Linked DNA regions of Homo sapiens. The protein of the gene in region 1 purifies or fractionates together with the protein of each later gene. This does not show direct contact. Each region holds a gene or a part of one and is shown in the gene's direction. Other genes may lie near its edges.

The links. Proteins that work in one complex are often made in the same cells at the same time.
Region 2: the proteins of PRSS35 (region 1) and ETFB purify together in Homo sapiens (co-immunoprecipitation; one large-scale study listed by IntAct). This does not show direct contact.
Region 3: the proteins of PRSS35 (region 1) and MRPS35 purify together in Homo sapiens (co-immunoprecipitation; one large-scale study listed by IntAct). This does not show direct contact.
Region 4: the proteins of PRSS35 (region 1) and OXCT1 purify together in Homo sapiens (affinity purification with mass spectrometry; one large-scale study listed by BioGRID and IntAct). This does not show direct contact.

The regions. Positions count from the first base shown.
Region 1 is NC_000006.12:83,515,534-83,519,033, forward strand, and holds part of PRSS35 (inactive serine protease 35 precursor), read left to right. Parts: intron 1-3,500.
Region 2 is NC_000019.10:51,352,889-51,356,388, reverse strand, and holds part of ETFB (electron transfer flavoprotein subunit beta), read left to right. Parts: intron 1-1,546; exon of another isoform or gene 1,547-1,750; coding exon of another isoform or gene 1,751-2,080; coding exon 2,081-2,239; intron 2,240-3,098; coding exon 3,099-3,257; intron 3,258-3,500. UniProt on the Homo sapiens protein: Heterodimeric electron transfer flavoprotein that accepts electrons from several mitochondrial dehydrogenases, including acyl-CoA dehydrogenases, glutaryl-CoA and sarcosine dehydrogenase.
Region 3 is NC_000012.12:27,713,832-27,717,331, forward strand, and holds part of MRPS35 (small ribosomal subunit protein mS35 isoform 1 precursor), read left to right. Parts: intron 1-948; coding exon 949-989; intron 990-2,459; coding exon 2,460-2,627; intron 2,628-3,500.
Region 4 is NC_000005.10:41,842,926-41,846,425, reverse strand, and holds part of OXCT1 (succinyl-CoA:3-ketoacid coenzyme A transferase 1, mitochondrial isoform 3 precursor), read left to right. Parts: intron 1-2,768; exon of another isoform or gene 2,769-2,845; coding exon of another isoform or gene 2,846-2,851; intron 2,852-3,500. UniProt on the Homo sapiens protein: Key enzyme for ketone body catabolism.

The DNA.
Region 1 (3,500 bases):
CATTCTAGTTGTCCAGGCTGGAGTGTAGTGACACAATCACAGCTCACTGCAGCGTCCACCTCCCAGCTTAGGTGATCCTCCCAACTCAGCCCAGAGTAGCTGGGACCACAGGCATGCGCCACCACACTTGTAGAGACAGGGTCTCCCTATGTTGCCCAGGCTACTCTCAAACTCCTGGACTCAAGTGATCCTCCCATCCCAGCCTCCCAAAGTGCTAGGATTACAGGTGTGAGGCACCGCGCCCGGCCCTTTTCTACTTTTTAATCACTCCCTACTACTACTACTTCTCTTTTCTTTTTTTTGACGGAGTCTCGCTCTGTTGCCCAGGCTGGAGTGCAATGGCGTGATCTCACCTCACTGCAACCTCTGCCTCCCGGTTCAGGGGATTCTCCTGCCTCAGCCTCCCCAGTAGCTGGGATTACAGGTACACAACAGCATGCCTGGCTAATTTTTGTATTTTTAGCAGAGACGGGGTTTCACCACGTTGGCCAGGCTGGTCTGGAACTCCTCACCTCAAGTGATCCGCCCACCTAGGCCTCCCAAACTGCTGGGATTACAGGTGTGAGCCACAGCCTCCGCCACTCCCTACTACTACTTTCTTTCTAAACAGTCAGGCAGACTGTTGTAAAAACTCGATTCTCACCTTTGTAAGTGTAGCAGTTTCCTACTGCTGCTGTAACAAATTACCGAAAACTCAGTGGTTTAAAACAACACAAATTTATTATCTTATGCATCTGGAGATCAGAAATCTAAAGTTTTGGCTGGGCACGGTGGCTCACGCCTGTAATCCCAGCACTTTGGGAGGCCGAGATGGGCGGATCACGAGGTCAGGAGATCGAGACCATCCTGGCCAACACGGTGACACCCCATCTCTACTAAAAATACAAAAAAAATTAGCCGGGCATGGTGGCGGGCGCCTGTAGTCCCAGCTACTGGGGAGGCTGAGGCTGAAGAATGGCGTGAACCTGGGAGGCGGAGCTTGCAGTGAGCCGAGATCACGCCATTGCACTCTAGCCTGGGCGACTGAGAGAGACTGCGTCTCAAAAAAAAAAAAAAAAAAAAGAAATCTGAAGTTGTATTGTGATCTTCTGTTTTTAGTTTTAAATTATATTTCTTCATATTTTTCTTAAAACAACACATTTTCATTTATGTTCCTCCTTCTGGAAGTTCTAGGAAATAATTTTCCTTACCTTTTTCAGCATCTAGAGGCCACTCATATTCCTCAGCTCATGATCCTGCATTGCTCTGGCCTCCGCTTACATCTATCAGCTCTTCCCACTCTTAACCCGTCTGCCTCCTTCTTATATGAGCCCCTATGATTGCATTGGACCCACCTGGATAACCCAGAATAACCACTTCACCTTAAAATCCTTAATGTAATCGTATTTGTAAAGTCTCTTTTCTTGTGTGTGGGAAATATTCACAGGTCCTGGGGATGAGGATATTTGGCATACCACAATGAGGCAGTTAGAGATGTATGAAATACCTTGTAAATATCTACCTGAGTGTTGGCTCCCCCTGTTTGATATGAAAAACATTGGCTTTAATCTTTGTGGAGTGCTTACTGTGCTCTGGGCATTGTGCTTATCATATTAGTTTCTCACAAAAATATTCTCAAATATTATCTCTATCTAATAAATGTGGGAAATAATGTCTAGAGAGATTAGGTAACCTTCACAAGATCACAGTGTAACAAGTGGCAAGTGTACTTAAGGTTGATTTGGCTTCAAAGCCCACTGCCCCCATAATCATTGAAACACCCTAGTTCTTACTCCCCTTTTTTATTACGTTACAGACACTGTTATTTTCTCATACACTCTCTAAATTAAATGTTACCTCCATGTAGTGCTGCTGTCAGGGAGCGCCTCAGTGGATCAGGAATTAGTTTTCATAAGATACCCCCTCTCCTCAGCATCTGTTCCCCCAAATAAAACTGACTATGAAAGTTTTTACAATTGTCATCCAAAACATCACCGCTTTCTTTAGTGCTTGCTTTATTCCTGTTTATGTCACTTGTAATTCTCCCCCTCTCCTGCTGTGGCCTTTTGCCTAAGCCATTTCTCTCTGCAGTTATTCAGAATCATCTGGCCAGGCCCCAGTGTCTCCCTGTTGTGTGTCAATCCTGAGTAGGTGGAGGATGAAAGTAGAGGAGGAAATGAGGGCATGTCTTCACATTTAGGTATGCATGTAAACAGAGCCAGTGGTGTTAGGAAGCACAGGTGGTTGGGATTGCAGATGGCTAAATAGAGGACAGCCAAGTTTTAAAAGGTGGTCATGCAATCATTGGTGTGTACTAACATACACACTAAAGTAGAGGGTGGTGTTGGCCCTATGGGGTCATTGATATGACTGAGTAATTCCTGACCCACAGCAGCCTCCCAGGAACTGTTTGATGGATCAATGCAAAGTTGTGTCCCATGGCAACATGCTATGTACATAAATATGGACAAGTACCTCACTAGACATTACAAGGAACCAGGTGAAAAGAAAGGCATAAGTAATTGTGAATCTGTCACCTAGTGAGGGAAAGCAATTCAATGCAGGTCCTTCAATGGTAAGTCAGCATCTTTGCTTTCTCATAGACAGGAAAAATAATTGATTTGAAATATTAATATAGTGGGCAGCCATCTAATCTTTCATTAGTTTGTCTGCTCTATCTAAGCTAGACTATAAACTTCTAGGGTAAAAAACAAAACACAAAAGAGAAACTGAGCCTTAAGGTATAATGTCATTTCATCATAGGATTCTATATACTCTAGATAGACTCACTCAAAAAGTTGTTTTTTTTTCATTGTAGATCACTCCCTTAGAGTAATTATGTTGACATAGACTCTGTTTCTTTTTAGGCTGAGGGTCTGATGCAGTTCCAAAATTCCCAGTGTAGATCCAGGCTATAAATAAGACACAGAAAATGCAATTTAAGTGTTTTGTGGCTGCATAGTGTTTAATCACACTTAAGTTTAATAGCAATGAGAAAAATATATTACAGAGCCATGGATATTCATAGAAATGAGTAATTAGGAAAGCATTCATTTGGGAAGTCTCTAAAGTGAAGCTGTCCTTGAACGAAAAACAAAACAAAGAAAAAGCGAATTTTAGAGTGAGTTGGAAACTATCTTGAAATAAAAATATTTGACTGTAAAACTGACTTTTTAGAAAACTACAAGATCTCTAATTTTGGCTTATATAACAACCTGTTTTGAAGTGATACAAATTCACCAATTAAGGTAGGATAATAATTATAAAATAACATGTGTTAACTACTTACTATCCTCTGGGCTCAGTAGTAATTCTTTGCGTGTATCATCTCATTTAATCTCCATAACAATGTTATGAAGTCGAAATTACTATAATATTATCCCCACTTTGCAGATGAGGAAAGTGAAACTTGGAGAGTTAATGAACTGCCCACATGCACATGCCTCATAAGTGGTGAAAAGGGAATTGAACCCAAGCCTTCCCACTCCTTGGTCTGCACTCATAACCACTATGCTGGTACA
Region 2 (3,500 bases), on another chromosome or scaffold:
TATGGTGTGTGTGTAGGCAGGGTCAGTATTGGTCACTGACCCTTACACTGCAGTGGCATTTGTGAAATAGGTCAGGGTCACTGGTCACGTTGTCTAAGGTGTTATCCGAGCTCGTTTCACAACCAAGAGAATTAAAGAGCATAGACCACCCAAAAGGTGAGGTTGGAGCGAAAGTTTAATAAGCAAAAGAAGAAAGCTCTCCACAGAGGAGAGGGAAGCCCAAGCGGGTTGCCATTTTTACAGTTGATTCCAAAAGCTTTTTTTTTAAAAAATTATTTATTTATTTATTTTTTATTATTATACTTTAAGTTTTAGGATACATGTGCACAACGTACAGGTTTGTTACATGTGTTTATATGTGCCATGTTGGTGTGCTGCACCCAGTAACTCGTCCTTTAGCATTAGGTATATCTCCTAATGCTATCCCTCCCCCCTCCCCCCACCCCACGACAGTCCCCGGTGTGTGATGTTCCCCTTCCTGTGTCCATGTGTTCTCATTGTTCAATTCCCACCTATGAGTGAGAACATGCGTTGTTTGGTTTTCTGTCCTTGCGATAGTTTGCTGAGAATGATGGTTTCCAGCTTCATCCATGTCCCTACAAAGGACATGAACTCATCATTGTTTATGGCTGCATAGTATTCCATGGTGTATATGTGCCACATTTTCTTAATCCAGTCTATCATTGTTGGACATTTGGGTTGGTTCCAAGTCTTTACTATTGTGAATAGTGCCGCAATAAACATATGTGTGCATGTGTCTTTATAGCAGCATGATTTATAATCCTTTGGGTATATACCCAGTAATAGGATGGCTGGGTCAAATGGTATTTCTAGTTCTAGATCCCTGAGGAATCACCACACCGACTTCCACAATGGTTGAACTAGTTTACAGTCCCACCAACAGTGTAAAAGTGTTCCTTTTTCTCCACATCCTCTCCAGCACCTGTTCTTTCCTGACTTTTTAATGATCGCCGTTCTAACTGGTGTGAGACGGTATCTCATTGTGATTTTGATTTGCATTTCTCTGATGGCCAGTGATGATGAGCATTTTTCATGTGTTTTTTGGCTGCATAAATGTCTTCTTTTGAGAAGTGTCTATTCATATCCTTCGCCCACTTTTTGATGGGGTTGTTTGTTTTTTTCTTGTACATTTGTTTGAGTTCATTGTAGATTCTGGATATTAGCCATTTGTCAGATGAGTAGGCTGCAAAAATTTTCTCCCATTCTGTAGGTTGCCTGTTCACTCTGATGGTTAAACTAAAGAGCTTCTGCACAGCAAAAGACACCAAAAGCTTTTATAAGAAACTCCTTTCATCTCTGTAGCTGTTTGAGTATCTTATCTGTAAAGCTATCTGCATAACTCTCCGTTATCTATGTAGTTGTGGGTACGTCTTTAGGCAAGCACAAAGCTCCGCTTCTCTTGTTTCTGTAACCGTGGGTTTGTTTTAGGTAAGCTCCGCCCCTCCCCGTGCAAGTTCCCACAGAGACCACCATGTACGTGCCTGAAAAGGGGAGGGAACTTTTCCTGGGAGCCTGTCAGTCACGCAAAGAACAAAAGGCTTCTGTGCTGGGCAGCTTGAGTTTTCCCCAGGCTGCTCTATTGTTGCCTGTAGCTGTGATTTTTCAGGCAGGCTGCTCCTCTGAGGACCACCCTTAACTGTCTACCTAACTGGTTTTTCCTTTTCTTCTCCTCATTTGTATTTATGTATCAGTGTATTATGTATTTATATACACTTGGAGATACAGTAAAATGTACCTCTCACTGTGGGTTACCATAAATACTGTAAATTTGAGAAACACTCTTTCAGGCCTGAGAGGAGCAGTGACAACAGTAGGGATGATCAAGTCAGATGTCCCTGGTACCCAGGAATGGCTGGATGAGAGAAGGAGACAGGGTGACCTGCCCCTGCCTACAAACTCTAACCCAGTTCTGTCCCTGGAGCTGTGTGACCCCGGACAAGGCCCTGCCCCTTTCCAGGCTGTCGTTGTCCTCATCCAGCCTGGGAGAGGGTTGGCGCTGAGGCCCCCACCTTCTTGCCTGTTTCCTCCTGACCCCACCCCTTCCCCTCCTGCTGGGCAGATCCGAGTGAAGCCTGACAGGACCGGTGTGGTCACGGATGGTGTGAAGCACTCCATGAACCCCTTCTGTGAGATCGCGGTGGAGGAGGCTGTGCGGCTCAAGGAGAAGAAGCTGGTGAAGGAGGTCATCGCCGTCAGCTGTGGGCCTGCACAGTGCCAGGTGATGAAGGTCTTGGGGAGGGGGCTGGACTCCTGGGTCTGACGGAGGAGGGGCTGGGACCTGGACTCCTGGGTCTGAGGGAGGAGGAGGCTGGAAGTCTGGACCCCTGGGTCTGAGGGAGGATGGGCTGATAGCCTGGATTCCTGGGTCTGAGGAAGAAGGGGATGGGGGCCTGGACTCCTGGGTCTGAGGAAGGAGGGGCTGGGGGCCTGGACTCTTGGGTCTGAGGAAGGAGGGGATGGGGCCCTGGACTCCTGGGTCTGAGGAAGAAGGGGATGGGGGCCTGGATTCCTGGGTCTGAGGAAGGAGGGGATGGGGCCCTGGACTCCTGGGTCTGAGGAAGGAGGGGCTGGGACCTGGACTCCTGGGTCTGAGGGAGGAGGAGGCTGGAAGTCTGGACCCCTGGGTCTGAGGGAGGATGGGCTGATAGCCTGGATTCCTGGGTCTGAGGAAGGAGGGGATGGGGGCCTGGACTCCTGGGTCTGAAGAAGGAGGGGATGGGGGCCCGGACTCCTGGGTCTGAGGAAGGAGGGGATGGGGGCCCGGACTCCTGGGTCTGAGGAAGGAGGGGATGGGGGCCCGGACTCCTGGGTCTGAGGAAGGAGGGGATGGGGGCCCGGACTCCTGGGTCTGAGGAAGGAGGGGATGGGGGCCCGGACTCCTGGGTCTGAGGAAGGAGGGGATGGGGGCCCGGACTCCTGGGTCTGAGGAAGGAGGGGATGGGGGCCTGGACTCCTGGGTCTGAGGAAGGAGGGGATGGGGCCCTGGACTCCTGGGTCTGAGGAAGGAGGGGCTGCGAGCCAGACTCCTAGGTCCCCCTGAGGATAGCAGCCAAGTCAAGCCCCTCTGTCCTTGGCAGGAGACGATTCGTACCGCCCTGGCCATGGGTGCAGACCGAGGTATCCACGTGGAGGTGCCCCCAGCAGAAGCAGAACGCTTGGGTCCCCTGCAGGTGGCTCGGGTCCTGGCCAAGCTGGCAGAGAAGGAGAAGGTGGACCTGGTGCTGCTGGGCAAACAGGTAGCTGTGGTCAGCCCTCCCTGTGCCCCCTTGCTCATCCCTGCTCGGGAGGAGGGTGGTGGAGATACGGGGTGAGACAGCAGCTGGCCAGGCCCAGGGCATTCACCACTCCAGGCTGAGCAGCTTGGGACTTTGCTGACCCTTCTGACAGAGAGTTTGAGCAGGGAGGACAGAGTCCCTCTGGGTGTTAGAAAGATCCTCTTGGGCCAGGCACGGTGGTTTACGCCTGTAATCTCAGCACTT
Region 3 (3,500 bases), on another chromosome or scaffold:
AATCCCAGCACTTTGGGAGGCTGAGGTGGGTGGATCGCTGGAGCTCAAGAGCTTGAGACCAGCCTGGCAACATGGCGAAACACCGTCTCTACAAGAATTAGCCGGGTGTGCTCATGTCTTTAGTCCTAGCTACTTGGGGTGCTGAGGTAGAAGGATTGGCTTGAACCTGGTAGTTCGAGGCTGCAGTAAGCCGAGATTGCACCACTGCAATCCAGCCTGGGCGAGAGTGAGATGACCTTGTCTCAAAAAAAAAAAAAAAAAAAGAAAGAAAGAGAAAAAAGAAAAAATTCACCGTCATACAAACTAATTGACTAGGTTTCGTTCCCTGCTATATGTGTTCATAATATTTATCACTGTTTATTGAAATTATTTGTTAAAAAGTTGTCTTACTTGACAGACTCTGTAAGAGTCATTTTTTAGATAATGAATTCACTGTATCTGCAATTCAAATAACTGTAGAATTTTCCTTACTGGGGCTAGGCACAGTGGCTCACACCTGCCCACCGCACTTTGGGAGACTGAGGCAGGCGGATCACTTCAGGTCAGCAGTTTGAGACCAGCCTGGCCAACATGGTGAAACTCTATCTCTACTAAAAATACAAAAATTAGCCAGGTGTGGTGGGGTGTACTGGTAGTCGCAGCTACTTGGGAGGCTGAGGCAGGAGAATCACTTGAACTCCGGAGGTAGAGGTTGCAGTGAGCCGAGATCACACCACTGCAATCCAATCTGGGTGATACGCCGAGACTCCCTCTGTTTCCAGTTTTTAGTCTTCATTAAGATGATTTTGGTCCCTGAGCTTACCAAAAAAAAAAAAAAAAAGATTGTTTCATTGTTATGTTACTAAATACCTTAAATTGTGTTAGAATAATGGGATCATGATTGATGTTGAACAACTAACTTGACATGATAAAATTCTCTTTAACTACTGTGTTATCTTTTACGTACAGCGGAAAGAACACCCGGAAATGAAAGGCCACCAAGAAGAAAGGTAAAAAGTTCGTATACTCTACTATCTTAATGGTTTCTGGAGTTCTAAAATGAGGCAGATATTCATTATAAGGCAGAAGGGTGTTACCAGAGAAGACTTCACAAGGTCATGTTTACTGGGTGATTGCCATAGCCCTGGCAGAGGTTAGTCTTTGTTTTTTGTCAGTACCCAGAGAATAGATGATCTTTGAGAGGTTGACTTACTGAGGAACTCCCAGGAAACAGGTGTATAAACCAGAATATGGAACAATTTCTAATGCTATCTTAAGTCCTGCAGCCTGGGACTTATGCATTAATATAACTAGTTTGTTTATTTATTTATTATTATTTATTTGAGATAGAGTTTCCCACTTGTTGCCCAGCTGGAGTGCAGTGGTGCAGTCTTGGCTCACTGGTACCTCTGCCTCCCGGGTTCAAGTGGTTCTCCTGCCTCAGCCTCCCAAGTAGCTGGGACTACAGGCACACACCTCCATGCCTGGCTAATTTTTTGTGTTTTTAGTAGAGAGAGGTTTTCACCATGTTGGTCAGGCTGGTCTTGAATTCCTGACCTCAGGTGATCCACCCGCCTCAGTGCTGGGATTACAGGCGTGAGCTACTGCACCTGGCCTCCCAAAGTGCTGGGATTACAGGCATGAGCCACGGCACCTGGCCGTATTCTAACTAGTTGAGTCTCACCCTGTGGACATTTGGATTCCTTACTTCTATGGAGGAATCTAAACGATAAGGTCAGTTGGTGAGCAATAGTGTCAGAACAAAGACACATTAGTTGGAAGTTAAATGGTATCAAATTACAATCATTAAGAGCAGTCATTTCCTCAGGACTATTACCTGCTTCTAGGATATTGACTACACTGGTTTTGATATTGCGTAGGCGGGGCATGGCTGAATTTTGCCACTATAAACCCTACTTTTGTATGTGGGCCATCCCCTCGTATTTGATGCCATTAAAAATAAATGTTAATGTGATTGACTAAGCTATCAAGTACTAGTTTTTCTCTGGGCCTAGGAGACATATAATTTTTCATTATATATTTATTCAATCAGTTTAACCCTAATTATTTTTTCCTTTTCTTTTTACTTCCAAGTACTTAACGCCCCCTCATGTACTACTGACTTCCATCAAAGAAGTTCGAAAAATTATTTCAAAATGTATTGTTAATTCACCCTTTCATAAGCAAAATGTAAAAATTTTGCTAAAAGTCCAGTTAAAGAAATTTTTAGTGAAGAAAATGTGATATTAAAGGGGATCCTTGCCAGAGGGTTTGAAGAAACAGTGCAGAGATATTTAGGTAGATTTAGTGTTGTTTTTAAAATTTGGACAGCAGCAGCATTGTGGGAGGTCAGATTTTACATATGTTGCAATTTTGCTTCTATTTCTTGTAATTGTAGCTTTTTGCTTTAAAATTAAAATTCTTTAAGAATTAAAGAATGTGTTTATATTTAAAATACTAAACGATTTTATATTTCTTAGGCACTACCTCCTAGGACAGAGAAAATGGCTGTTGACCAGGACTGGCCTAGTGTTTACCCAGTTGCAGCACCATTTAAACCCTCTGCAGTACCTCTTCCTGTTCGAATGGGTTATCCAGTAAAAAAGGGCGTGCCCATGGCAAAGGAGGGAAATCTAGAACTTTTAAAGGTAAGACAAATTGCTGATTCATTGGCTCAGACTTACATAGAAATAAATGCTGATCTTCCCCCCTATTTCTGCTCTCTTATGCTTCACCGTTCAGTGTATAGCAGCTTAGTGTATTTTAATTTAAATGTTAAAAATAATATAATAGGTTTATTATTATACAACACCAGATAATAATAGGTGTTGTATTTTGATTATCAATGGTAAAGAATACTCAAAGAATCCTAGGCATTTAATAATGTAATTAGTTGGCTGGGCGCAGTGGCTCACGCCTGTAATCCTGGCACTTTGGGAGGCCGAGGTGGGCAGATCACTTGAGGTCAGGAGTTCAAGACCAATCTGGCCAACATGGTGAAACCCCATCTCTACTAAAAACACACAAAAAATTAGCCAGACGTGGTGGTGGGCACCTGTAATCCCAGCTACTTGGGAGGCTGAGAAAGGAGAATTGCTTGAACCCAGGAGGCGGAGGTTGCAGTGAGCCGAGATGGCGCCACTGCACTCCAGCCTGGGCGATAGAGTGAGACTCTGTCTCAGGAAAAAAAAAAAGAGTAATTAGTCAATCTTGTGGCTTCCCTTGTGACCTTTTTCTGTTGTATCTCTTCTTTTTGGAGATGGGGGTCAGTATGTTGCCCAAGCTGGTCTTGAACTCCTGGGCTCAAGAGACATGCCTGCCTCAGCATCCCAAAGTGCTGGGATTACAGGTGTGAGCCACCACACCCAGCCTATCATATCTTTTCTATATTGCATCTTTCCAGTGGAATTAAGAAAAATGAAATAACCTAATTTGAGATTAAGAATTGGGAGGTGAAACTTCCAGTTTAAAAAGAGGAATTTAAATTTTTTCTGTCCATAAAGGTAGAATATTATTTAGTA
Region 4 (3,500 bases), on another chromosome or scaffold:
AAATCATCATTCTCAGTAAACTATCGCAAGAACAAAAAACCAAACACTGCATATTCTCACTCATAGGTGGGAATTGAACAATGAGAACACATGGACACAGGAAGGGGAACATCACACTCTGGGGACTGTTGTGGGGTGGGGGGAGGGGGGAGGGATAGCATTGGGAGATATCCCTAATGCTAGATGACGAGTTAGTGGGTGCAGCACACCAGCATGGCACATGTATACATATGTAACTAACCTGCACATTGTGCACATGTACCCTAAAACTTAAAGTATAATAATAATAAATAAATAAATACATACATACATACATAAATAAATAAAGAGAAGACTTCTGGATTGGAAGGCAGAAAATGAGTGCAATTAGGGAGGGAATGCAGGGGGATTTAAACTGAATATTAATGTTCTATTTCTTAAGCTGGTGTTATAAAAATGTATAAGTACTGCATATATTTTTAAAATGCTACATAAGCATATTTTGTACATTTTTATATGATAAATTTTACATTAAAATATTTTAAGATAAAAAATGTGTTTTTTATGTTTGATCTTTTTCCTTTACTGTCTAAATAAGTTTAAAAGGCTTCTTGACAAAGTAAAAGACAGGAGCCTAATTGTTAAAATGAACTGTAGTAGTATCTCATAAAGTTCCCGGAAAACTTGGGATAAATACTTTGATAGCTTGCTAGAAGTTGAAAAATTAATTCACCTCGTGAAAATATGAGACTAAAATATTTCTTAGGTTCATTTCTGCCTGGAATCAGGTGCCTCAAACTCGTAGTTTTTTAATTTTGTCTGAATTCCCTAGGAATATGACAGATAATTTATTTCTTAATTCTTAGTACTTTTTTTTTTTACTTAAAGCAGGAAAAAGTGAGTTCATTTCTAAATTAGTGTTATTTATTGAGGTCCTACTCTTTGCCAAACCCTGGTCTAAGCACTGTGGTAAAATGATCTAGATCAAGTCCTCCTGCTAGTGGAGGAACTGACAATGAATGAATAAATGCATAATGTCTATAGTGGAAGTACTGTGAAGACAAATCAAGTAGATTAACAGCAAAGAGAATTAATTATCACTGGCCAGGCAGCTGATATTCCAGACTGGTGGCCAGGGAGAGCTTCTTTGGGGAGGTGACACTTGGTAGAGACCTGAATAAGGTAGGAGAACGAGGCAAGTGGAGATAAGAGGGTTTGTGCTCTGTTCAGAAGGAAGAGTAAGTACAAGGTGCTGAGGCAGCTACAGGCTTGCCGTGTTTGGGGAACAGGAGGGTGGTGAGGCTGGAACAGCACATGAGGCAGAGAGTGATAAGGATGGAGATTGAAGAGAGGCAGGAGTCAAATTCATGCAAAGTTTGAATTTTACGGAACGCAGTGGGAAGCCTATGGAGTTTTGAATAAGGGTGAGAGTGATGTAATTTGAGTTGTCTTTTGTAACTATCACTGTGGCTGCTGGGGTGGTGGTTCTTTTTTTTTTTTTTTTGCTAGGAAGCCAAGAGCAGAAGCAGCGAGAGAGGGTTTAGGAGGCTGTTGTGTTAATTTAGGAGGGAATGGAAGGTGGCTAGACCAAGGTGGTAACAGTGGAGTTTGAGAGAAGTGGTTGAAATTGGTGTTATGTTCATGGTAGAGCCAACAGGATTTACTGGTAGATAGGTAAGGGGTGTAAGAGGAGTCAAGCATACTGTGTAAGATGAATGAAGCACAGGCCTTATCAAAGAGCTCTGTTTGGAACATGGTGCATTGGAGACGTTCATTAGACTCCAAGAGGAGGTGCTTAGTGAACGTCATATCAGGGGAGAGTCTAGAGCCAGGATAGAGACTTTGGAGGCATCAGCATATAGTATTTAAATCTGTATACTAGATGAGTGTCTAGGGGCTGAGTGCAGAGCACCTCGTTGACATTTAGAAATTGGGAAGAGAAGGAGCAGCAAAGAGAAATGGGAAAGAGTGATTAGTAAGTAAAGAAGAAACCCAGGGGCATCTGGCAATTTGAAAGAGAAGGGAAATTTTAAAAAGAAGGGAATGATCAACTGAGTGTGAAGAGGTTGGTAATACAGGGCCTGGAATTGAATCATTGGATTTGCAAAAACAGAGGTCATTGACAACTTTAAGAATTATTCCTTTTTGGAATAGAGGGGATGAAAATCTCATTAGATTCAAGAAAGAACCAAAAAGTGAGGAAGTGGTGACTACGAAATGTAGAATTCTTTCAAGTGAGTATAATAGCTAGTTTGACAAAACCAACTCCTTCCCCATTTTTAAATTTCAGTAAAACTAACACTCAGCAACAGCTGGTATGTAGACACATCAGAAAATTATGTAACTAGAATATAAAAGAAGCCTATTTATTGACTTTGCCTTGCATTTGCATATATTTACCCCAGTTTTCTAGATCTGTATGTAAAACACTCAACTATCATTGTTGGTATTTACAGTGATTTTTGAAATACATAAGCCGTTCCAAAATAACTTTGTATATTGATATGTGGCTCAGAAATATCTTTCATATAATTTATCTTAGTTCCTATAGTAAGATCCTCATTCATCAGTTATTCCCTAAGTGCATTAATCTTTTTTCTAGCAGGCAACTTGGTTAATGTCTTTAAAGTAGCCTTTATTTAAGAAAGGTTTTGTTTCAAACCATAGTTGAAATAAATGTACCAAAATTTTCTATTTTCTATAGCAGCTTTTTGTAAAACGCACTTAGTCTGTTTTTCCACTAGGGGGTGCGGTAGGGATGAGAATGGAGTTCTACATTCACATGGCTCCATTTTGTGCAGTGATGGAGTGTGGCAATGGATGCTTGTTTTAATTCCCGGAAATAAACCGTCAAGAATAAAAGAACATGATGGCAAGACAGTTTTGCTTTATGTTCTTCCCTCCAAAATTGGTAGTATAATTAAAAGGCAATAAACATAAATAAAAATCAATAGCATTCCCTAGATCAGTAATGTCAGAAGAGTAGATAGGAGCAAATGTAACATTCACAGTAGCAAGAGAAACCACTAAGTACCTATAAATAAACCTAAGAAAAAAAATAAAGCTTTTATGGAGAAAATAATAAAACTATTGAAGGAGGTCGAAGAAAACCTCAGTAAATGGAGACATATACTATGCTCATGGGTGGGAAGATAGGGCTTGTTGGTTTTCTCCAAATTTACTGATTCTGTGAATCCCATTTAAAATCTCAACAGGTGATATAGGTTATTGAGGATAGCTGAATGATAGATTTTTGTAACTATTTTATGTAGGAAAACAATACATAGACCATTTTATGCAAACTGTTTTTTCAGGGGAGAGGGAAAGAAGGACTATTTTTCACATTCAATATACAACCTGTACATACAAATAGTAAAATGAAAATAGTCTATCCCTCAGGCCATAGAACTTTCAGTTCCTCAAATGCACAAATTTTCTTTTGTCACTGGACCTTTGCTTGTCTGTTTCCTTAGCTCCCCTTAGACCACTTTGACTAAGTCCTGCTTGCCTAACACTGCTTA